Linked DNA regions of Homo sapiens: all the other regions are linked to region 3. The links come from fine-mapping of genetic effects on gene expression. A gene starts in region 3. Each other region holds a variant in brackets. All regions are shown on one strand. Distances are from middle to middle.

What was found.
Region 1: its variant is fine-mapped to the expression of MCM6 in whole blood (INTERVAL, PIP above 0.99).
Region 2: its variant is fine-mapped to the expression of MCM6 in tibial nerve (GTEx, PIP above 0.99).

What each region holds. Positions count from the first base shown.
Region 1 is chr2:135,821,880-135,830,057 of GRCh38, forward strand. LCT (lactase) reads right to left here. Exons shown (of 17, transcript NM_002299.4): 3 at 7,714-7,797; 4 at 2,022-2,124; 5 at 141-219. It overlaps LCT-AS1 (LCT antisense RNA 1), which reads left to right. Exons shown (of 2, transcript NR_045486.1): 2 at 1-1,208. Among named protein-coding and RNA genes, the nearest start is that of LCT-AS1, 5.8 kb to the left of the region's middle. The variant CA/C (reference allele first, on the strand shown) is at 3,113.
Region 2 is chr2:135,793,416-135,801,593 of GRCh38, forward strand. It overlaps LCT (lactase), which reads right to left. Exons shown (of 17, transcript NM_002299.4): 12 at 7,192-7,394; 13 at 4,614-4,723; 14 at 1,226-1,360. Among named protein-coding and RNA genes, the nearest start is that of LCT-AS1, 23 kb to the right of the region's middle. RefSeq lists enhancers at 3,994-4,515, 4,516-5,039. The variant T/C (reference allele first, on the strand shown) is at 4,499.
Region 3 is chr2:135,872,572-135,880,730 of GRCh38, forward strand. MCM6 (minichromosome maintenance complex component 6) reads right to left here and starts at 3,872. Exons shown (of 17, transcript NM_005915.6): 1 at 3,688-3,872; 2 at 126-272. The coding sequence starts at 3,794. RefSeq lists enhancers at 2,962-3,497, 3,267-3,396, 4,087-4,146 and a silencer at 3,467-3,626.

The DNA of each region.
Region 1 (8,178 bases), 51 kb before region 3:
TTCTCATCAATTGAATGGCAATAAACAACTTGGTGGCCCAAGAGTTGATGACAACAGTCCTATAAGATTATACATGTAAAAGAAACAGAGTATTCTACAAATATCAGTTATTGATAGTTCAATAGGCAACCTGACATTACCTTTTCTTGGAACTTGATGAACAACTCAGAAACTCATTAATATCAAACCCAATGGTGAGCACTTGGTCTTTATTTATGGCTGTAAGAGAAGAAATTGAATTAACTCTATGTAAATGCCAACTAAGAACATGCAAGTCTGAAATCAACAGTTTTCCTCGCTCATACGACACACCCAAACTCCAAGCAGTGGTTCCAAGCCCCTTTGGAAAATACCATGGGCTAACGACTTTAAAAGCTTAGAAGTGAATTCTACTTACTTATTACTTAAAAGTGGTTCTCAAACTTCAAGGTGAATCAAAATCATCTGTAGAGCTTGTTAAAACACAGGTTGCTGGTCCCACCCCAAGAGTGTCTGATGCAGTAGGTCTCAAGTAGGGCTCAAGAATATGCATTTCTAATGAGCTCCCAGGTGATGCTAATGTTGATGCTGCTGGTCTGGGGACCACAACTTTGGGAACAATTGATTTAGAAGAACTCAAAGATCAGAAAGGGGTGGAATATTTTTAAAATTGTGGTAAAATACGCATAAACAGAAAAGGTACAATTTTAACCACTTAGAGAGAGGTGGGATCTAAGAACAGAAATTGTTATGCCATCAAAGGTGAGTTCAGATAAGCATTATTAAATGGTATCTATGGATAAACTTCAGGGGCCCTGTGGAGCCAACCCATTGCTGGGATGGGGTCCAGGTGTGCTATGGTTTGGATGTGGTTTGTCCCTACAAAAACTCATGTTGAAATTTAATTGCCAGTGTAACATTATTGAGAGGTTATGGACTTTTAAGAGGCATTTGGGTCATGAGGGATCCGCCTTCAGGGATTAGTGCAGTCTCCAGGGAGTGAGTGAGTTCCCATTCTAGTGGGACTGGATTAGTTACCATACAGTGGTTGTTATAAAGTGAGGCTGCTTCTGGTGTTTTATCTGTTTGCAGGCACTTCCTTCCCCTTCCACTTCTCTGCCAGGTTAGGATGCAGCATGAGGCCCTCACCAGAAGCTGACCAGATGTGGCTGCCTGATCTTGAACTTCCCAGTCCCCAGAACCATGAGCTAAATAAACCTTTTTTCTCTATAAATTACGCAGTCTAGAGTATTCTATTATAGCAACACAAGACAGACTAAGACACAGTGGTAGAAAGAACACTACTGACTTCTCCCATACTCTGGCCTATGGACAAGAGTGACAGACAGACAAGAGTGAATATCAGGGCCCTCAGGCACATTCCTCTCTGCCCCTTCCTCCCTTCTTGCAGAGTCTCCAGTGACTGCCAGCCTCAATGCTATCATAGACCCCACCTTTCCCCTGACTTGATTGGACCAGAAGCAGCCTCCTGATCCATGGCCAACAATCAGATTCACTTTCAAGAATTTGAACTAAGAGACACTAGGAAGATGGCCCTTGAGCTGTGAGTCCTACACTTGAAAGTTCTTAGCATCTTGGTCAGGTACCCACCAGGGCCATGTGCAAACTGAGATAATGGGGACATGGAACAAGGGTAAGTGGAGAGGGCTGGCTGGAGAGAGACGGGCAGAGGAAAGCCCTGCCAAGAGGAGCAGAGATGAGAGACCTTGGAGGGAGAGGTAATAAAAGGAGGCAAAGATGATTTTCCATGCTTACAACTCACAGCTGAGGCCTAACTATCTTTATGTCCATAAGAGGCATCCTTGTGTCGAACCTCTCCTCTTTCTTGGGTCAATGGGGGATGGTTGCAAGGGACCATCAGTAGGAAGGCATAGTACACTAACCCAGTCTGGGGTGGGCTTTTATACTAGTCTTCCTCCCATGCTCCTCCTCCCATTGGAACCCCGGACTTTCAAGACTGCTACCTAGCACACCAGTGCACCAGATGTCACTCAAAACCTCTTCAGCAATGGCCCACTCACCTTCAAAAAGGCTGAAGAGCAGACTGGCTGGGTTCTTCATGGTGGAGGGGCAGTCTGGGAGTTTTAGGTTGAAGATGAAAACTTTCACTTTTGGCTCAATGGTCTGAAAAAGAGAAGGACCAGCAAGTGAACTGAAGCCTCCTGGAAAGCATCTTGATAACAGGGACAGAGTTTCAAGATGAGAAGCTGTGGCACTTACTCTGGCTTTGGAAATGACCTCTAAGTATCTCAGTTAATTAAAGGAGTCAACTCTAGACTCTGAAGGAGAAAGATCTACAATTTTCAATAACATAGTCTACCCTCCCCACCAACCCCCACCTTCACCTCTTCTTTCATCACAGGCTTACAGGGCACCTCTTAGAGCCAGGCACGGTGTTAGGATCAGGAACAAGGCCACTGCTCACATCCAGAGCCTGTGCTACTTAAGAAGCTTAGTTAAGAGGCCACCATCTATGGATGTCTGGGATTTGCTTCAAAATAATCCAGTTTGGTTAGCTGGGTGTGGTGGTGCATGCCTGTAGTTCCAGCTACTTGGGAGGCTGAGCCAGGAGGATCGCTTGAGCCCAGGAGTTTAAGGCTGCAGTGAGCTATGATTGCACCACTGCACTCCAGCCTGGGTGACAGAGCAAGATCCTGTCTCTAAAAAAAATTTTTTTTAATTAAAAATCTAGTTTGGGAGATAGAAGTTATAGGTTAGGTGAAAGAAGATTAGCTATGAGCCAATAATAGCTCTTGCAGCTGGAGATGGCTTCGTAGGGGTTCATCATTCTTTTTACTTTTGGATGTTAGAAATTTTCCAAAACAAAAAGTTACAGCAGCCCAGCGGGTGTGGTGGCTCACGCCTATAATCCCAGCACTTTGGGAAGTTGAGGCGGGCGGATCACCTGAGGTCAGGAGTTTGAGACCAGCCTGATCAACATGGTGAAACCCTGTCTTTATCAAAAATACAAAAATTAGCTGGGCTTGGTGGTGCACGCCTGTAATATCAGCTACTTGGGAGGCTGAGACAGGAGAATCGCTCGAACTCAAGAGGCAGAGGTTGCAGTGAACCGCTGCACTTCAGTCTGGGCAACAAGAGCCAGGCTCCATCT[CA/C]AAAAAAAAAAAAAAAAGAAAAAGAAAAGTTATATTAGCTGTTATCATTAAAATGGAAGCAAATGTAATTTCCTCTTCTTATTTCTAGCCATTTCAGTATCAAGGAAAACGTCTCAGGGCTGACATGCTGTTTGACTTCACTTTAAATTACCTTTTTTGCGGGGCTTGGAGTTTGGTCATTTTACTCACAGTAACTTTTTCCTCCTCTGAGCAACTAAAAGCTACCAAAAGATACCAATAGTAACCACTTTAAAAGGAGCCAGGCATAGTCTTTACTTTCTCATAGCCACCTGTGACTTTCTTTACAGATGGGGAGTCAGAAGCTCGAGAGGCCGAGCGGGTTGCCCATGACTGCGCAGTTAGTGGAGCTGTGACTCCACACAGTCCTCATCCCTCCCTGTGCTGGGTCAATGCAGTGGGGACAAATGACCCAGGGTGGCGTGCTTAGGGAAGCAAGGGTTTTCTCCTTCCTGAAAGACGGATATGCCATGAGGCAGCCGGTGATGTCCCAGGGCTGGAGAGCTAGAGGAGCCTCGGAGGCCCCCAGCCTGTCTTCTGCCAAGCGGAGAACTCCCTGGGAGCACAGCTTTTTCTGATAAGTGGATGGGGGACCTCCTCGTGTGCCTCCTGCAGAACCGAGAACCCTGGAGTGTGCCGCAGCTCTTCATTTCTGGGCTTGAGGCTGTTCTCAGGCCCTCAGACAGCTGTGTGCCGTTGGGGAGTGGCCGCTGAGGGCCCCTGAGGCTCAGAGAGGGCTGTGCAGGTGCTCCGGGGAGAGGGTGGGAATGGGGGCAGGTGCCTGCTCCTCCCTGCCCTGCTTTCGCCCTCTTCCCTCGCAGCCCACAGGAAGAGGCCCCTTCAAGGGGAGGGTGGGGTTCCAGGACAGGGAGGGAGGGGACACTGGGAAGGTGGGCAGCACGATTCAGGCTCCTGTGGACACAACTCAGCCCCTGTTCTCAGGGCAGGCTCAGCTGTTCTCCCTGTCCTGGGTGTGGTAACTGTGCATGGGAAATGCTACCAGGCATGAGACCACAATCCCAGGAAGGAACAGTGTGCTCTCCAGCTCAGGGGTTGTCAGCTGTCATTTCCGAATCTTTGAGGCTGCCTCTGAGGGGCCAACCCTACCCAAGGAAGTAAAAGGAATAGATAACCATTGCAGAACATTTATAAATGGCTGCTAAGTTTGTCCAGGGAGAGTTTTACTATTTGGCTGGCCAGCTACAGACTGAAGTTTCAGTGCTTTACCCAGACACTGGTAGAAGTGTCTTGAAAATGTGGTAGCCAGGTGCAGTGGCTCATGCCTGTAATCTCAGCACTTTAGGAGGTCGAGGGGGGTGGTGGATCACTTGAGGCCAGGAGTTCGAGACCAGCCTAGCCAACATGGTGAAACACTGTATCTGCTACAAATACAAAAAAAAAAAAAAAAAGCTAGGCATGGTGGCGGGCACCTGTAGTCCCAGCTACTTGGGAGGCTGAGGCAGGAGAATCGCTTGAACCCCAGAGGTGCAGGTTGCAGTGAGCCGAGATCATGCCACGGGGCACTCCAGCCTGGGTGACAGAGCGAGACTCCATCTTAAAAAAAAAATGTTGTGATGGAAAAAGGGAAGAGACTGAAAATCACATCCTCAAGTACCAGCCATGCAGTGCCTCTGCTGCCTGTCAGAGGCACGCCACCTCCGCACAACAGAGATGGTTTTAAAATGGCAGCTTTGTCTGAACCCATTAGCCTAGCAACAAGCTCTGGTTTAATTCCATGAGGAGGACAAAAGGCAGCTTTAGTCATCACAGGCACAAGCAGACCTCGAAGACCCTAGAGTGTTACGTAAGGCCCAGAAACCTTGTCAGCCAGCCCGCAAGCACAGGCCCTGGGCAGCAAGCAAGTTTAGGTTCAGGTGAGGCATTCACAAAAACAACTGAAACTGATCATATGTGATTTAAAAAATACCACCCTCATTATCATGTTCCAAACCCTTGGACTTCTTTTTCTTTTTCTTTATTTTTTTTTGAGACAAGTCTCTCTCTGTCCCCTGGGCTGGAGTGCAGTGGCGCCATCTCGGCTCACTGCAACCTCCACCTCCCGGGTTCAAGCGATTGTTGTGCCTCAGCCTCCCAAGGAGCTGGGATTACAGGTTCGTGCCACTATACTTGGTTAATTTTTGTATTTTTAGTAGAGACGGGGTTTCGCCATGTTGGGCAGGCTGGTCTTGAACTCCTGGCCTCAAGTGATCCGCCTGCCTCAACCTCCCAAAGTGCTGGGATTACAGATGTGAGACTTATTTTTCTTTTGAAAAGACAGTGTGGTGTCTTAGAATGAGAAAGCCCTAGTTCAAATCCCAACCCTGGAGCTCACCACCTTGGTTAAATTGTTTAAACCTTAGGGTGTGTTTTGAGAGGTTGAGATGATGTGAGAATGAAGTGCCTCCCAGGTGTCTGGGATAAGCAAGCACTAAAATAGCTGTTACTCAGATGTCTTTGTGGCTGCATCTGTCACCTTTGATTAGATCAGTGGTCCCCAACATTCTTGGCACCAGGGACCGGTTTCGTGGAAGACAATTTTTCCACAGACTTGGGGGAGGTAGGGGGGATGATGGGGATGATTTGGGGATGAAATTGTTCCACCTCAGATTATCAGGCATTTGATTCTCATAAGGAGCACGCAACCTGGATCCCTCGCATGCGCAGTTCACAATAGGGTTTGTGCTCCTATCTAATATGGTCGCTGATCTGACAGGAGGTGGAACTCAGGTGGTAATGCTTGCTCGCCTGCCACTCACCTCCTGCTGTGCAGCCAGGTTCCTAACAGGCCATGGACCAGTACTGGTGCTCCGCCTGGGGGCTGGGGACCCCTAAATTAGATCATCTTATTATTTGTAGATAACAAAAGCAGCAGTGTCTACTACACAGACAGCTAGAAACACACAGACATTGGGATAGGACTGGTGCTAATTTGTCCATTTCAAGCACTCTGCCTCAGGTAAAATGGAGGGTCCATGTAGCTGAAGCTCAGTTTGACATTCCTGAGCTTGGCCTTTTATTTTTATTTTTATTTTTGAGATGGAGTCTCGCTCTGTCACCAGGCTGGAGTGCAGTGGCGAAATCTTGGCTCGCTGCAACCTCCGCCTCCCAGGTTCAAGTGATTCTCCTGCCTCCACCTCCCAAGTAGCTGAGACTACAGGTGCGTGCCACCACACCCATCTAATTTTTGTATTTTTAGTAGAGATGGGTTTTTGCCATGTTGGCCAGGATGGTCTTAATCTCTTGATCTCATGATCCACCCACCTCGGCCTCCCAAAGTGCTGGGATTACAGGCATGAGCCACTGTGCCTAGCCAAACTTGGCCTTTAAAGGGATAATTCCTCAGGTAAACCATCCTCCTTGGTGACGGAGATGGTGGGATTCAAAACCACAGGTGAGTGTAGGGGGCTGCTCTGCCTCCCTCATGGGAGGCACAGGCTGAAAGCAGCGGGGAGTGGTTTTGTGCCCAAACCTGAAGAGGCAGGGGGTCCAATGTGGGTGCATACCAGTGGCCAGACATCCTTGGAAAGGCCCACAGGAAGGCAGCTCTCCAGGGTTATAGGAATACTGCCAGCACTCGGAAGGTGCAGGAGAAAACGTGGGCACCATCAGATAGACCTTGTCACAGGAGAATAGTTGGGACTCCAGGGAATGAAGCAAGTAAGTCACACAGCAGTGACCAAGCCTAAGAGAGAAACCTGGTAGTTGGATAGGAGGCTCCTAACACACTTTCTCTAATGAGCCCGCATCATTAGACTTGAGAAAAGCAGTACTGGGTACAGGAGGGAGTACTGAGCTTACTGGAAGGTCCAGACAGCTGGGATCTGATTTAGTAGACCTGGGTGTGAAATGTTTGTTTTTTTAAAAATGTGGTAAAATAGACATAAAGAAGAAATTTACAGGCCAGGTGTGGTGGCTCACGCCTGTAATCCCAACACTTTGGGAGGCCAAGGTGGGCGGATCACTTTAGGTCAGGAGTTTGAGACCAACGTGACCAACATGGTGAATCCTTGCCTCTACCAAAAATACAAAAATTAGCCAGGCGTGTTTGTGTGTTCCTGTCATCTCAGCTACTGGAGAGGCTGAGGCAGGAGAATCGCTTGAACCCGGGAGGTGGAGGCTGCAGTGAGCCAAGATCACGCCACTGCACCCCAGCCTGGGCAACCGAGGAAGACTCCATCTCAAAAAAAAAAATTACCATCATAACCATTAAATGTATAGTTCAGTGGTGTTAAGTGGACGCTTATCGTTATGGAACCATCACCCCCATTGATGAGTTGCCTTTTTAAAACTCAGAATGAACCCCAGAATCTCAATTCTCGGCAGATTTCTACACAAGCAAGCAGAGGATCTATGTAAATATTCACCTTAACAAGCTAACCCTTGTATCCCTTCTAGGAAAGACTGCCTAACATCCGATGTTCTCTAGGGATGCTTGCAATGGAAATCTCCCCAGACACAACTCAGCCGGTCTCTGCTGTTGATGGAAGTTCAGTTTATGCAGTAGCCAAAGCATTAAATGTCTAATCTGCTCTCTGAAACCTTCGCTGCATTCATCATTAATGTGGAAAAGGGCTCAAATTACCTGCAATTTACTCAGCTTCTGCCGCAGACTTGCCTCATTTTGGCATTCATAAGACAAATCAAGAGAGAGGAAATCGACCGTGTCCTGAAAATAGTAGTTAAATAGGGTCATTAGAACCTAAGCACTGTCAAGACTAACAGCCTCTCAGAAGTACGCTTTTTTGTTTCTCCCCTTATCACTAAACCAAATATTCCAAAGCAGGATTTTCCAAAGGAAAAGATGGAGATGGAATGAGAAAGTGTGTGTGTGTGTGTGTGTGTGTGTAGGGGGCGGGGGGTGCCTGTGCCTGTATGTTGTTGGGAATGCATCACCTATGTGCTCATCCATGCGCCTCTGTGCTCAGCACACAGAAAGCACGCAGTGTTGATGGCTAAATGAATGCGTGAAGGAGTGTGTATGCCAGAAATGGGAGGCAGTTAGAGGCCAGTGCTGCCCCTGGTGCTTCCTCCATAGACCCTCACATTT
Region 2 (8,178 bases), 79 kb before region 3:
AAGGGGGTGAGCACCACATCAAGGGATCACCCTGTGGGACAAAAGGATCTGAGGGGCAGCCCTTGAGTTCTAGATCTTTCCACTGAAACAGTCTACCTGAATGAGAAGGAACCAGAAATGTTAATTCTGGTAATATGACAAAACAAGGTTCTATAAGACCCCCAAAAGGTCGCACTAACTCTCCAGCTATGGATCCAAACCAAGAAGAAATCTCTGAATTGCCAGATAAAGAATTCAGAAGGTTGATTATTAAACTACTCAAGGAGGTACTAGAGAAAGGTGAAAATTAACTTAGAGAAATTTAAAAAACAATACAGGATATGGATGAAAAAGTCTCTAGATAAATAGATATCATAAAGAAAAAGACAATCGGCTGGGCGCAGTGGCTCACACCTGTAATCCCAGCACTTTGGGAGGCCAAGGCAAGGGGATCATCTGAGGTCAGGAGATAGAGACCAGCCTGACCAACATGGAGAAACCCTGTCTCTACTAAAAACACAAAATTAGCCGAGACCATTCTGGCCAACATGATGAAACCCCGTCTCTGCTAAAATACAAAAAAAAAAAAAAAAAAATTAGCCAGGCGTGGAGGTACGCGCCTGTAATCCCAGCTACTTGGAGGCTGAGGCAGGGGAATCACTGGAACCCGGGTGGTGGAGGTTGCAGTGAGCCAAGATTGTGCCACTGCACTCCAGCCTGGTGACAGAGCGAGACTCTGTCTCAAAAAAAATAAATAAAATAAAAACTGTTACTTAAAAGGTGAACCAAAATCTTTTACTATCTCTACTTCATAAAAGCATTGTTTAAAAAGAGAAAATAAAATTTTACTCTTGTATTATTGTAATATTTATTAATATTAAAGCGAATTTTGATAAAACCTAAACAATTTTTTTCTTGAAAATCCTTTTTAACAACCAAGCATTTTTAGAGTTAAGCAGCCTGTGAAAAAGAACGCAAAATAAATAAATTTTAAAAATGAAATAAAAAAACAAAAAGCCAAGCACATGTGCCCTAATGGGAGGTGCCCTGGAGACCCCGGCCTTCTCTCCCTCTTGCTTGCTGGAGATTTCCTTGGGATCTGTGGGGTGGCGAGCATCTTGCAAACCCCGGCACATTCGGCGTTGGAGGCCCTGTTTTGAGGCTGGGCAGGCCTCAGAGAGCACAGCCAAGGGCACCTTTCTGCCTTTTCCAGAGATGGCTCCGGGCTCCCTGTTGGTGGACTTACCTGTCTGCATCAAAAGAAGAGATGGCAGTGGCATAGTTGAGGTTGTAGGCGAGGACAGTGGTGTAGTGATTGAACCCAAAAAAGTCATAGGTGCCGTTGATCCTCCTCTTCTCACTCTCTGTAAATTCTGGCAGCCTGGGTGGAAGAAGCCATTGAGGGCAGGGCTTCAGGGAGAGCCATGCTTTGAGAAGAGAACGTCATAGGGCTGGGGCGGGGGAGCTCTCCGAACCCCAGGCACTTGGCAGTGAGTAGGGGAAACTGGCAGGGAAGGAGAAGAGGTCCTTCAGGCGGTGCAGGAAGCACTGCGGCTCCTCCAGCCAGACCATAAACCTGGCTTCCCTAGGTCTCTACAAGAGCCTCTGAAACCTGAAGGACCACACACACACGCACCCACGCGCGCGCGCGCACACACACACACACACACACACATGCATAAACAGTTTTTAATTTCCTTCAAACAACATATGCAAATTCTGATATTTAGCATCTATGACAGATTTCAAAATCAAGAGCATGCCTGAGGTACATATCTGAGACTCTTCCCCTATGTTTGTAAAGTTAGATCTTGTATAATTTTTTTTTTTTGTGGCTGAGTCTGGCTCTGTCACCTAGGCTGGAGTGCAGTGGCGCGATCTCAGCTCACTGCAACCTCCGCCTCCTGGGTTCAAGTGATTCTCCTGCCTCAGCCTCCCAAGTAGCTGGGACTACAAGCGCCTGCCACAACTCCTGGCTGATTTTTTATATTTTTGGTAGAGATGGGGTTTCACCATGTTGGCCAGGCTGGTCTTGAACTCCTGACCTCAAGTGATCCGCCCACCTCAGCCTCCTAAAGTGTTGGGATTACAGGCATGAGCCACCACACCCGGCCCTGTATCTTGTGTAATTTGTATTTCCGTTTTCTGCCCTTTCCAAGTTTCTCTGCTCCTCTTGGGGTTTGTTTAGGCATGCCTCTTTTCTCCAACTCTAATAATAATAATAATAATAATAATAATAATAATAGCTTCAAGATCTTCAAAGTAGCAGGGGAAATAATTTGCAAATTGAGTATTTGAGTTTGAATTTCTCAGTTCTCACGATTTCACTGAACTTTGTTTTCTTTCTTCCTTTTTTTTTTCCCAGACAGGGTCTCGCCCTGTCCTCCTGAGGACACTGCACGCCCCCTGAGGCTGGAGTGCAGTGGTGCAATCATAGCTCACTGCAACCTCAGTCTCCTGGGCTCAAGCAATCCTCTCACCTCAGCCTCCCAAGTAGTTGGGAATATAGGTGTGCGTCACCATGCCTAGATAATTTTTAAATTTTTTGTAAAGACAAAGTCTCACTATATTGCCCAGGCTGGTCTTGAACTCCTGGTCTCAAGCAATCCTCCTGCCTCAGCCTCCCAAAGTGCTGAGATTACTTGTGAGCCTGGGAACTTTGGCTTCTTAACCTGTAGATGGAGCATTTTCCAGGCACTCTGAGTGAAAAGCCTCTCCTGTAGAACCTGACTAATACACTTGTGTGCAGCATGTACAGGTGATCCTGAATGCATGCGCATGCCCACAGGGAGACCTGGGGCTTCTGGTTTAGGTGTGGCCCAGAGATGCCCTGCTGAGGCCTCTGACACTTTCATCTTGACCTTTCTGCTACCATTAACCTGAGGGATCAAGAACCTTCCTTCCCTGGGGTTTCTGAGATGATGGGAGAAAACCAAAGCACAGCCTCCTCCTGTCCCTGACGCTTCTGCTCAGAAGCCAGCAATGGCCTGTGGCACCAAAGCCAAGGCCCTGTGCTTGGCTTCCAGGCCCTCCACCATGTGGCCTCAGCCCCTTCACTGCTGCTGGGCTGGTCTCCCCACTCTCAGCTCTGGCACCCCCACTCATTCTTACCTCTAGGCCTGTCTTCACAACTCTGCCCCGTGGAAAGAATGACCTGCAATCCCCCACATTCTATCCCCTGTCAAGGCCCAGCTCAGCTGATGTCCTGCCTTGTCCATGAAATCTCCTGGGTCTACCCAGCCTACCCTGATCTCATCTTCTGAGTTTTCTTTGTACTGAAGAGCCTGGGGAATGGGATGGAGAACTGTCTTTCCAGCTGATCTGTCAGCAGCTTGAGGAGCCGAATGGAATCCTCTCCTTCCATGGACCCCTCCCCCTGGCCCTGGCTCGGGCAAATGGTAGGTGCTCGGCAAAGTTGTGCAGATGGGCCGGGCGCTCATCGGTTTTGCTGGAGATCACAGTTCGCAGATCAGACCTTTAGGCACAGCCTGCTCTGGGGAACTTACCCTAACTAGGCCAGGGTGTGCATTGTGAGGTGGGAGCTGGATTTTTTTTTTTTTTTTTTTTTTGAGACAAAGAGTCTTGCTCCATCGTCCAGGCTGGAGTGCAGTGGCATGATCTCGGCTCACTGCAACCTCTGCCTCCCGAGCTCAAGCAATTCTCTGGCCTCAGCCTCCCAAGTAGCTGGGATTACAGGCCCCCGCCACCGCACCCAGCTAATTTTTGTATTTTTAGTAGAGACAGGGTTTCGCCATGTTGGCCAGCCTGGTCTTGAACTCATGACTTCAAGTGATCCGCCCACCTTGGCCTCCCAAAGTGCTGGGATTACAGGTGTGAGCCACCGCACCCGGCCTGGGAGCTGGATTTTTAATCCTCAGCTGGACTATATGGGGGCGTCTAGGGGCAGGACTCAAAGACTATGTTGGGAATTCACACTTGATTCCCGCCAGCCTTGGAGCGGTGGGCATGTTCCCGTGGGCAGTGACTGCCGCTTCCTGCGCTTCCTCACACCACACCTCTCACCCCACCTGCATGATTCTCAAGCCCCCAGCATGCGCCCTGGGGGCCGACAGCTTGGCTGCAAATCTCAGCTCTATCTCTTAATAGCTGGGTGATCTTGCCCTAATCTTTGCGCCTCACTTTACTCGTATTTAAATAGAAATAAAGATACCAACAGAAGATGGGTAAACGTTGGCTGCTAATGTTGCTACTCCTTCCTTGACAAGAAGGGGCGGGCGGGTAAGGAAGGACGCTTTGGTGCAGACCATCGCCACCTGCTGGCCAAGTGATGCAAAGCACACGCCTGACTGTCAGCCACTGCCACCCACATTCACACGTGCGGTGATGAAATAGGATAGGATGAGCTGGGATTTGTCTGTGGAGTGGCATAGTGGGGTTGCTCAGAGGTGGATAGCCTTGGAACAGATTTCCTGGCTGTTCCACAATATAATAACCATAATAGCAAACCCCTCTGTCAAGCATATAGCAGTGCCAGGTGCTGGGCTAAGCTTTACATATA[T/C]GATCACATGTAACTTCCCAGCAAGCAAAGAAGCTCAGTCATGGTAACTTGCCCGAGACATGCCTCTGTGACCCCGACGCCCATGCCCTCACCACTGCGGGCACCAGGCCCTTACCGAGACTTGTTGAGGCCTGCAGCCAAGCTCCTGTCACGGATCCGCGTCTTCATCACCTCATTGTAATCTCCATTCTTGAAAATAGGATGTGCAAACCAGCCTCCCATGAACTGCGGGTAGGGTGGGGGAGACAGCCCAGGCGTTACAGGTGGGCACAGCAAGAGACAGCATCGTCCCCGCTCAGAAGTGCCTGGCCTCACAACCTCCCTCCTTTTCCTGGACCCCCAGGTTAAGCTCTCTTCCCTGTGGCTCCTGCCTGTTGCAGCTTCAGTGTCCACAGGTCTCCCAGCTGGGTCTGTGCTTGCTCAGTTGCTGTTGCACTGAGGACAGGGCCACCTCTTCATAGTTGTAGCTTGAGGTGACAGTAACTGACCTGGGCACTGGCCCTGGTGCTCAACAAATGCTTCCTGGCTGCCCTTGGATGGGTCCTGCAGAGGAGAAGGGAGAACCCACAAGCCTCCAGGCTCCCGGTTCTCTTTCTCACCACTGAGCGGCTGCACTTCCTCATCAAAGTGCCCAAGGAGCAAACAGAACTTTCTGGGGAGGGCTGAAATGCAAGGCTTTCCTGACTTTCCGGGCAAAGTATAACTCTTAATGGGCTTTCACAGCCCCAGAGTGGGGAACCGTTTGACCTATTTTCTCTAATGAGGCCTAGGCCATCCTTATCATGTGCGGGGATACGTGGCACCCAAACACTATGATGCTGGGGGTTTGAGAGCCTTCTGTAGTCTCTCCAAATCCTCTCCTCACCCACTGGCTGCTGCTGGGAATGTGGGGTGAGGGCAGCTTCCACTCATGGTCAGAGATGAGGCATGGAACACACATGCCCTGGTAAAGAGGCTTAAATGCACCCACTCCAAGGTAACACACTAGATATTTTCGTGGAAGCTGATTCTAATAAGAGATGCATCTGTCATAGTCCATGGCTGCAGTATCACAGTTCACCAGTAAGTGGCTCAATCTAATGATATGACAGCCTAACGTTTCCTGACGTTTGAAGTTTTGATTTCAGGAAAAAAGGAAATGTTGTTCTAAATCACCAGTTCTGTGAGTCTGAAATGAGGGATACATTAATTTTGTTTCAAAACTGTTTCCCCAGCTGGCTAGCAGACCAGAAAATTAAGCCCTTCGTTGCATTTATTAATTTGACTATCTTTGTCAAGTTCTCTTGTGAAGAGTTTGGCAAACCAAGGCCCATGGTGTTTCCCCCGAGAGAGTTATAGTGCCACAGTTGGCAGACTCTTCCACGGAGCCCAAAGTGGGAACCAATCCAGAGAGAAACCCTTGCCTTTCCTTCCTGATGCAAAATGTAGGAGAGAGCACCTTCTATCCCTTTCTAGGAGGAGCCAGAGGAGCTGTGCCGTGAACGAGGATCATTCTTTTCCTTCTCTCCTCTTGTCAGTCAGGGGTTCAGGTGGAAATAAAGGTAGGCCATGCTGGCACCTGCTTCCTTTTTTTTTTTTTTTGGAGATGGAGTCTCTCTCCATTGCTCAGGCTGTAGTGCAATGGTGATCTCAGCTTCTGGGTTCTCCTGCCTTAGCCTCCAGAGTAGTTGGAACTACAGGCATGTGCCACCACACCTCGGTAATTTTTATATTTTTAGTAGAGATGGGGTCTCACCATGTTGGCCAGGCTGGTCTAGAACTCCTGACCTCAGGTTATCAGCCTGCCTTAGCCTCCCAAAGTGCTGGGATTACAGGCGTGAGCCACCTTGCCCAGTCGGCTTCCTAGTAATGTCTCTACTTCCTTGGGTGAAATTCCATGACTGAAAGATGCTGTTCTTAAACTCATTGAGTTGGCAAATTAGGGGCACTAATGAGTTTCACAGAATCTAAAGCCCCCAATTTAAGAAATGCCTAGGCTGGAGCAAATCAAATTAGATGGTGACACCTAAAGGTGACGTGTGACACTGCAGCCCAGCTCTGTTAGCTACTATAGTCAAACCAGAGAGACTGAAGAAATGGAAATTTCTCTCTAGGAGTTAACTTCAAACCAATGTTACAGAAAGAATTACCTGTACAAATGATTTTTAAAAACTTAAAGACAACTTAACCCCACAGACTTTATCACTTTCATCACAGCAAACTTTTGAGGTGGGCAGGACATCTCCAGTTTGAAGTTGAGGAAACTAAGGTACGAAAAAGTTAGATGATTTTCCCAAGCTCACAAAATCAGGCAATAGCAAAACTAGGCTTAGATCCTAATAATTCTTCTTTTTGGGGGTTGGGGGTGGTCTCCCTCTGTCACCTGGAGTTTAATGGTGCCGAAATCATGGCTCACTGCAACCTTGACCTCCTGGACTCAAGCTCCCACCTTAGCCTCCTGAGCAGCTGGGACTATAGGTGTGTGTCACCATGCCCTAATAATTTTTTTTTCTTCACAGACAAGGTCTTTCTATGTTGCCCAGGCTAGTCTCAAACTCCTAGCCTCAAGAAATCCTCCTGCCTCAGACTTCCAAAGTGCTGGGATTATAGACATGAGCCACCACACCCTAAATCTTTGATTCACAATCTGTTTCCATTAGGCTGGAAGGAAAGATGGACAAGAGTAAGAACAAGCGCCCAGAGGAAAAACAGACCTGAACATATCTCCTGGCTGCCTCCACATCCTCCTGGTTAGAGGGATCTCTGGGTTCAGCCCAGTCACTGCTGATGGTGATGGAAATCACGCCACCTTGACTGGCGCGGTACACATCGTTGTACAGATGCCAGGCCTCAGCATGAGCCTTTATTAGATTGTGGCCAACAATGTAGGGGGCAGTGCCAGGCCTATTGGAGACTCCTGGAAACATACACATGGATGTCAACAGAGAATGGATAGAATGGATGTGACTGAGATTGTTAGTCCCTGCCTGCAGATGTCCCCTCTGTGTTTGGGAGAAGGGGTGTAGATTCTGACACTAGGAAAACTGGAATTCAAACCCTGGCTCTCCCTCTTATTACCTGGCTGTGTAACTTTGGGTGAGTAATTCAGCCTTTCAGTTTCCTCCTTGGTGAAATGGGCAGCAGAGAGTGCTTGTGAGAGGGAAATGAAACAGTGTATGAAACCCGCCCACAGCAGCACTGTGTCTGGAAGAGGGAAGGCCACTTGATAAATGTTGGCTTCTGTTCCCCTCCTCCAGAAGAGTGGCTCGTACGTCTCAGGCAAAATACCCATAATAGAGATACCTATCGCAGAATCTAAAGCCCCCAATTTAAGAAATGCTTAGGCTGGAGCAAATCAAATCAGATGGTGGCACCTAAAGGTGAAGTGTGACATTGCAGCCCAGCTCTGTTAGCTACTATAGTCAAACTAGAGAGACTAAAGAGATGGAATTTCTTTCTATTGAGTTAGCTTCAAACCAATGTTATATTCAGAAAGGACTATATGTACAAATGATTTTTTAAAACTTAAAAGACAACCCAGGCCAGGCAGGGTGGCTCACACCCATAATCCCAGCACTTTGGGAGGCTGAGGCAGGTGGATCACCTGAGGTCAGGAGTTTGAGACCAACTTGCCCAATATGGTGAAACCTGTCTCTACTAAAAATACAAAAAATTAGCCAGCTGTGGTGGCAGGCGCCTGT
Region 3 (8,159 bases):
TCTCAGTGGGAAATAACTGTGAAAGCTGACCTTCTGCTACACAAGTGAACACTTACAGTCCAAGAAGAGCTGGCTTCCCGGATTTCAACCCCTATTCAAAGTAAAGAAGATTAATATGCCCATACCTATAGAACTCCTCTTGAATGGTGGTGGAAAGTTGCTGGTTAAATTGTTCCAGGTCCACAAAACTCACAACCAATGTGTTTCTCTCAGGACGAATCAGTTCCTCTGCTAATTGCAAGTATTTAATTTCTCCATCGCTGCTCTGAAACCTGCAGGTACATTCGAGTCAACTAGATTAAGGACACAGGCAGTACAAAGAACCTGAATGATAATTCAGAACATTGGTTAAAGTCCAACAACTAGGCTCAGACAGGCCCATGTTTGGCAGTTCTGTAACTTGGGGCAAGTTACTCCTCCCTTCTGATATGGTTTGGCTGTGTCCCCACCCAAATCTCGACTTGAATTTCCACATGTTGTGGGAGGCACCTGGTGGGAGTTAATTGAAGCATGGGGACAAGTCTTTCCCCTGCTGTTCTCTGATAGTAAGTCTCACGAGATCTGATGGTTTTAAAAAGAGGAGTTCCTCTGCACAAGCTCTCTTTGCCTGATGCCATCCACGTAAGACATCAGTGACTTGCTCCTCCTTGCCTTCCACCATGATTGTGAGGTTTAACTGCTAACTAACAAAAAAACCCAACAACTAACTCTTCTTTTACTACTGTCATGTATAATTAAGATTGGAAAATGTTAAATCAAGAAATTCAGTCTCAAACCCAATGATTCCATTTCTGTAGGGAATTTGCAAACTAACAAATTAGTCAGGGATTTAAGAAGCAGAACAGAAATAAGAATACATGGAAATGAGGTGTTTCACAGCCCAAGACTTCGGGAAAATTGAAACAGGCACACTAAATAAAGCTGCTGGTATTTTTGCTTCTAAAGCCCAAGCAGGATATCATACAAATTTATTTCTGTTCTTTCAAACATAATATGCAGATTCGCCTTAAGAAAAAATCAATTTCTCCTCCATATACAGCATGTTCTGACTCCTTAAAATATTTGTTAAACAACTACGTGCAAAGCCCTATAACAGAGGTACCTGAGGCTGAAAATGGCAGTGTTGTTCCTGCCCTAGGGTTAACTAACACTTTGTCTGCGTCTAGGGAGTTAGACATGTAAGCAATGAAGACAGACAAGAAAGATGTTCCTGTTAATGAGAAGAACAAGAAATGTGCTAGGGGAATAGAAACTAATTCTGCCTAAAAAAACAACTACAAGTTATACATATAAAAGGTGGCGTTGGAATTCAGCTTCTGAAAGAGTTAAAAATTTCAAATAAAAACAGGTGGTGAAGTGACTGACTAGATGATTCCAAGAATGTGATTAAGTCAGAGAAGGTAGGGGAGAAGTGTGGATGATGACTGGGGTGTTTTTGTAAGACAAACAGGAAAGAGGAGTGATGAAGAATTTGAACTTTATTCCACAAGCAATGGTGAATTAAAGTTTATTTTGTGACAGGGAGTTGGCATTTCTTTAAACAAAGCACAGAGATTATTTGTCTCATCATTATCATCTAGCTGCAAAGTCAAGGCACTTAGATTATTTGTTGAAATGAAACGTTTATTGAAAAACCTTTGTAATGTGATGTGGTGGGTAGGTGGGGTTGAGGATGGAATTTGAATTCCAGACTAAGTAGCTAGGAGGTAAATGTGTTACACTGCCAGAGATAATGAAAAACAAACAGCACCCTGGGAGCCTAAGGAAGAAAGGATTAGTGCCTCTCAAAAAGGTGTACAAGGTTTCACAAAGGTGTGAGTTTTTAGCTGGGCTTTGAAGGAGGAACTATCAGGCAGACAATAACATTGCCATAGGTAGTGAAATGGAAATTAAATTATGGTTTTAAGTATACCAAAATTTCCTAAGAAGGCAGCATTATTCACAATAGCCAAAAGGTGGAATGAACCTCATTATTCACAATAGACAAAAGGTGGAATGAACCTGTGTCCACTGAATGGATAAGCAAAATGCAGTATATATACAGGTTGAGCAGCCCTCATCTGAAAATTTAAAATATGAAATGGTCCAAAATCTGAAACTTTTTGAGTGCTGACATGATTTTCACTGGAGCATTTCAAATTAGGGATGCAATTGGTTAAGTATAATGTAAACATTCCAAATCTGAAAAAAAAATCCAAGATCCCAAACTCTTCTGGTCCCAAGCGTTTCAGAAAAGGGATACTCAATGTGTACAGACAATGTTATTTAGCCTTAAAAAGTAAGGAAATTCTGACACATGCTACCTCGCAGAGGAACCTTGTAGACATTATGTTACACAAGCCAGACACAAAAGGACAAATACTACACGCTTCCACTTATATGAGGTACCTAGAGTGGTCAAACTCATAATGAAAGGAAGCAGAGTGGTGGGTGACGGTGGCTGAGGGAGAGGGTAACGGAGGAGAGTTCGTGTTTAATGGGCACAGAATGTCAGTTTGGAAGATGAAAAGAGTTTGGAGCCGGACACGGTGGCTCACGCCTGTAATCACTTTGGGAAGCCCAGGCGGGGGGATCACCTGAGGTCGGGAGTTCAAGACCAGCCTGACCAACATGGAGAAACCCCATCTCTACTAAAATACCAAATTAGCCGGGCGTGGTGGCGCATGCCTGTAATTCCAGCTAGTAGGGAGGCTGAGGCAGGAGAATAGCTTGAACCCGGGAGACGGAGGTTGCGGTGAGCTGAGATGGTGACACTGCACTCCGGCCTGGGCAACAAGGGCTAAATTACGCCTCAAAAAAAAAAAAGTTTGGAGATGGGAGAGTGGTGACGGCTGCACAACGAGGTGAATGCACTTAGTGCCACTGGACTCTACACTTAAAAATGGCTAAAATGGTCAACTTTGTTATGTATATTTTACTAAAAAAGAACTTCAAAAGCCATTCCAAACTGCTGACCCTTCATCCTGGAGGCCGTGGTGTATCTGCTCCAGGAAAAATAACCGGTGGGTGAGGCAAGCCAGGGAGGAGGTTGGGGTTATGAAGCTAGGAGCCCAGAGGCACAGAAAAAAAGAAGAGTAGAGAAAGGAAAGGAAGGCCAGAGGGAAAGGGGAGCAAGGGACCCAGAAGAAGGGATATGGTGAGCTACTCTCTGCAGGGCAGGGCTCCGCCCCCCAGCAGCTTTCAAACCACAGTTGACGCAGAAACTTTCATCAGCACAAGAGGCGAGGGTGGCCCGTGCCCTGCGAACCCCCAGCACCATGCTCCCGGCTGCGTGGCCCAGCAGGGCACCGACGAGATTCAATGGCACTTCGGCCTCCCACTCGACCTGGCCGCACCCAGCGGCCCAGTTACTATACTCAGCGAGCCCAGGTTTCCGCGCCGGTCACCGAGGGCTGTGCAAATACCAGGCTCGCGGGGTGGTGAGCATCAAGTGACAGAAGCAAAGCGCTGAGCACTGGGCACGAGCGTCTTAGGGCTCGAGATGGGTTTTACTCCAGAAAAACCCAGCCTGTCCCAGGCTCCTCGCGGCCGCCGGGCTCGGAGCCTAAAGTTGGGGGGCGGGCGGGGAGGCGCTTCCCGGACGCGCGACCCCCAGGTTCCGGAACACCCGCCGCCCACACGGCACCGCCTGGCCCAGACGCCGCAGGCTCCGGAGGCGGGCGAGGCCCGGGGCGCTCGCCGACTTACTCCTCCAAGAAGTCCAGGAACAGTTTCTGGCACTTCTCGGCCACCTCGTCGCGGACCTCCAGGTGCTGGCTGCCGGCGCCCGGCTCCGCTGCCGCCGCGAGGTCCATATTTGCTTAGTGCCGAGGATTCGCCTGCGCCACGCTCGACCGCCACAAGTCGCTTTTTTCCAGACGCTGCAGCTTTGCGCGCGCCGCCGCCGCTTCCGCCCCGCCCCCTCTTCCGACCTGCACGGCCGGAACCAATCGTGACACAGGAGCTGGAGATTTCGCGCCAAACCTGACCAATGAACGGCGCCTCTCCAAGAGCCCCAGCCCACGGAAAGGGATTTCGCGCCAAATGCAAAGCCCTTCTGGAGAAAGCCCATCTGCCTTTGCGCCTGCGCAGTGTAGCCGTGGCCCGCGGGTATTTTTGGCTGCTGGAACAAGTTCGAATCTGAGGGTTTTGTCCGAGTGGTTTTTCAAATGTTCTTTAAATCATTCCACTGATATTAATTGAACGATCGGAGTAAGACTCTATGGAAGAGAAAAATGAGTAAGCCGCTTCTGCTGTCTAGTTAGAGGAAATAATGGAAACCACAGTATAAAACCCTGTAAAAGAGTCAAAGAGATGTCTAAACCTTGCATGGGTAAGGTGGCACAATTATTGTGGTGGTGCTGACCGAGGAAAATCAGCGAAATATTTGACATTGGCCGGGCGCGGTGGCTCACAACCTGTAATCCTAGCACTTTGGGAGGCCGAGGCGTGTGGATCACCTGAGGTCAGGAGTTCGAGACCACCCTGGCCAACATGCAGAAACCCCATCTCCCCTAAAAATACAAAAATTAGTCGGGCGTGGTGGTGCACGCCTGTAATCCCAGCTACTCGGGTGGCCGAGGCAGGAGAATCGCTTGAACCTGGGAGGAGGAGGTTGCAGTGGGCCGAGATCGTGTCACTGCACTCCAGCCTGGGCAACACAGTGTGACTCCGTCTCAAAAAAAAAAAAAAAAAAAAGAAAGAAAAAGAAAAAGAAAGAAATATTTGACACTTTGATTAATCTTTTTTTCTTTTTCTTTTCTTTTTTTTTTCAGATGAAGTCTCACCCAGTCGCTCAGGCTCGAGAGCAGTGGCGCGATCTCGGGTCACTGCAACCTCCAGCTCCCGGGTCCAGGGGATTCTCCTGCCTCAGCCTCCTGAATAGCTGGGATTGTAGGCGCCCGCTACCATGCCCAGCCAATTTTTGTATTTTTAGTAGAGACAGGGTTTTCGCCATGTTGGCCAGGCTGCTCTCAAACTCCTGACCTCAGGTGATCCGTCTGCCTCGACCTCCCAAAGCGCTGGGATTACGGCCGTGAGCCACAGCGCCCGGCCTTAATACCCTTCTTAAAATGCACTATTGGCTTGAGTTATCCTTATGTTTTTTTCCCCCATCTTTCCCTAACCATTTCACTTGGTTTTTCTGCCATCTCTTTGGCCATTCCTGATTAGCATCCTTTGTAGGCGCCTCTCCTTCAGTGAGTCTTTTAAATGTTCTGGTTCCAGAGCCTTCTTTTCCCGTAAAGTCGCTCTCTTGGGCGACCCTTTACACTCCCTTGGCGTTAATTAACATCTGGGTACTGATGATATCTATATGTGTATTTCACCAACCAGTACCTTTTTTTGGCCTCCAAGACATTAAGAGAAACGGGGACCACTTCCATTTTTTGAGGCTTGTTGCATATTAAAAATATTTTTTCTTTCTTTTCTTTTTTTGAGACGAGGTCTTACTATGTTGTGCAGGCTGACCTTGAACACCTGGTCTCCAGCAATCTGCCTGCATCCGCCTCCCGAGTAGCTGGGATTTCCTGCCACCACCAAATCCAACTTATTGAAAAATTTTTTCTTTTTCTTTTTTTTCTTTCTTTTCTTTCTTTCTTTCTTTCTTTTTTTTTTGGAGACAGAGTCTCGCTCTGTCATTAGGCTGGAGTGCAGTGGCAGGATCTCGGATCACTGCAGCCTCTGCCTCCCAGGTTCAAGCAATTCTTCTGCCTCAGCCTCCTGAGTAGCTGGGACTACAGGCGCACACCGCCACGCCCGGCTGATTTTTTTTGTTTTTGTTTTTTTGTTTTTGTATGTTAGTATAGACGGGGTTTCACCATGTTGCCCAGGCTGGTCTCAAACTCCTGAGCTCAGGCAATTCGCCCACCTCGGCCTCCCAAAGTGCTAGGATTACAGGCGTGAGCTACCGCGCCCGGCCTGAAAAGATTTTAAAATGCCAAACAGAGTGGACAGAAGCTCAAGTAATTATTTTAACATACGTACAAATACACTATTCACAAGATATTTACAGAGTTTAACAAAAAAGCTCAATGCTGGCGTGTTGCAGTGTATCTGTAATCGTATGTATTACCTCATTTGAAAATGAACACTCGGCCGGGCACGGTGGCTCACGCCTGTAATCCCAGCACCTTGGGAGGCCGAGATGAGCGGATCACGAGGTCAGGAGATCAAGACCATCCTGGTTAACACGGCGAAACCCCATCTCTACTAAAAATACAAAAAAATTAGCCAGGCATGGTGGGGGGCGCCTGTAGTCCCAGCTACTCGGAAAGCTGAGGCAGGAGAATGGCCTGAACTTGGGAGGCGGAGCTTGTAGTGAGCCGAGATCGTGCCACTGCACTCCAGCCTGGGCGACAGAGTGAGACTCCTTCTCAAAAAAAAAAAAAAAAAAAAAAAAAAAACCCGAAAATGAACACTCAGCCGGGCGCGGTGGCTCATGCCTGTAATCCTAGAACTTTGGGAGGCCAAGGTGGGTGGATCACTTGAGGTCAGGAGCTCCAGACCAGCCTGGCCAATATGGTGAAACCCCATCTCTACTAAAAATACAGAAATTAGCCGGGCGTGGTGGTCGGTGCCTGTAGTCCCAGCTACTCAGGAGGCTGAGGCAGAGAATTGCTTGAACCCAGGAGGCAGAGGTTGCAGTGAGCCGAGATCGCACCACTGCACTCCAACCTTGGCGACAGAGCAAGACTCTGTCTCAAAAAAAGTAGAAAAGAAAAGAAAATGAACACTTGAGGCTCTGTGTCCTACAGCCCTTTACCAGCTCTAGAGTCTGCCTGCCTACCGGACATCACCACTTGTACATATTTTAGGAAGCTTGAACTCAACAGTGCTTCCTGGATATTCACAACCCGATTGAGCTAACCTGATTCTATTCCATCCTCTCAAAAGGCCTCACTCTTTTCTTTCTCATTTTTCTTCTTCTCCCTTCTCTTCCTCTTCTATCCTCAGGATAGATTTCTCAGAACTAAAGTCCCATGTACAGAAGGAAAAAAACAAAAATGATAGTGCAGAGCTCCGGGCTGATTTTCAGCTATGCTCATTGAGAAACTCAAGGCTTCCTCTTCTCAGCTCTCCATATCTCACAGGTGTTCCCTTCCTCCTTCAGACATGTATCTCTGAATCAGAATAGTAGATGATGTCTGTAAGTGAGGTTTGTAGGGATAACTTCCACAACAGGAGGAGGGTATGAATTATGAAATATCTCTGTCACACCCCAGAAAGTTGTATGCTATGTGTGTGCACTGGTGCCCAGGCCTGCTTGCTATCCTTAGAAAGTCCTGTTCACAAGATTGGCCTTTGGCTGGCATTGGGAACTTGACTGGTAAATAATTCTCTACATCGATATAACACTATCCCTTGATAATGATGGCTCATTGTACCTAAACTGTACAATGTGATTTATGCTGAATACCTGGAAGTCTAAAATTTTTTTTTTTTTTTTTTTAAAGACAGGGTCTTGCTGTGTCACTCAGGCGGGAGTGCAGTGACACAATCACGGCTCATTGCAGCCTCGACTTCTTGGGATCAAGCGATCCTCCTGCCTCAGCCTTCCAAGTAGGTACATGCCACCACGCCTGGCTAATTTTTGTATTTTTTGTAGAGACGAGGTTTGGCTGTGTTGCCCAGGCTGGCCTCGAACTCCTGGGCTCAAGCGATCCTCTTGCCTTGGCCTCCCAAAGTGCTGGGATCACAGGTGTGAGCCACCACACTGGGGCCTTTTTTTTTTTTTTTTTTGAGACAGGGTCTTGCTGTGTCACCCAGGCTGGAGTGCAGTGACACAATCATGGCTCACTGCAGCCATGACCTCCTGGGCTCAAGTGATCCTCCCACGTCAGCCTCCCACGATGTGCACCACCATGCCTGGCTAATTTTTATATTTTTTGAAGAGACAAGATTTCCTCATGTCACCCAGGTCAGTCTTGAACTCCTGGGTTTGGGCAATCCTCCCAAAGTACTGGGATTACAGGTGTGAGACACCATGCCCAGCCATCCATGATTCTTTTTAAAAAATTATTTTAGAATAGCTTTGGATTTACCAAAAGTTGCAAAAGATAGTACAGAATTTTCAAATACACCTTGCCTATTTTCCTTTACTGTGAATATCTTACACTCTTATAATACATTTATTACAACTCAGGAACCAACTTTAGTATGTTAGTATTAACTAATATTGC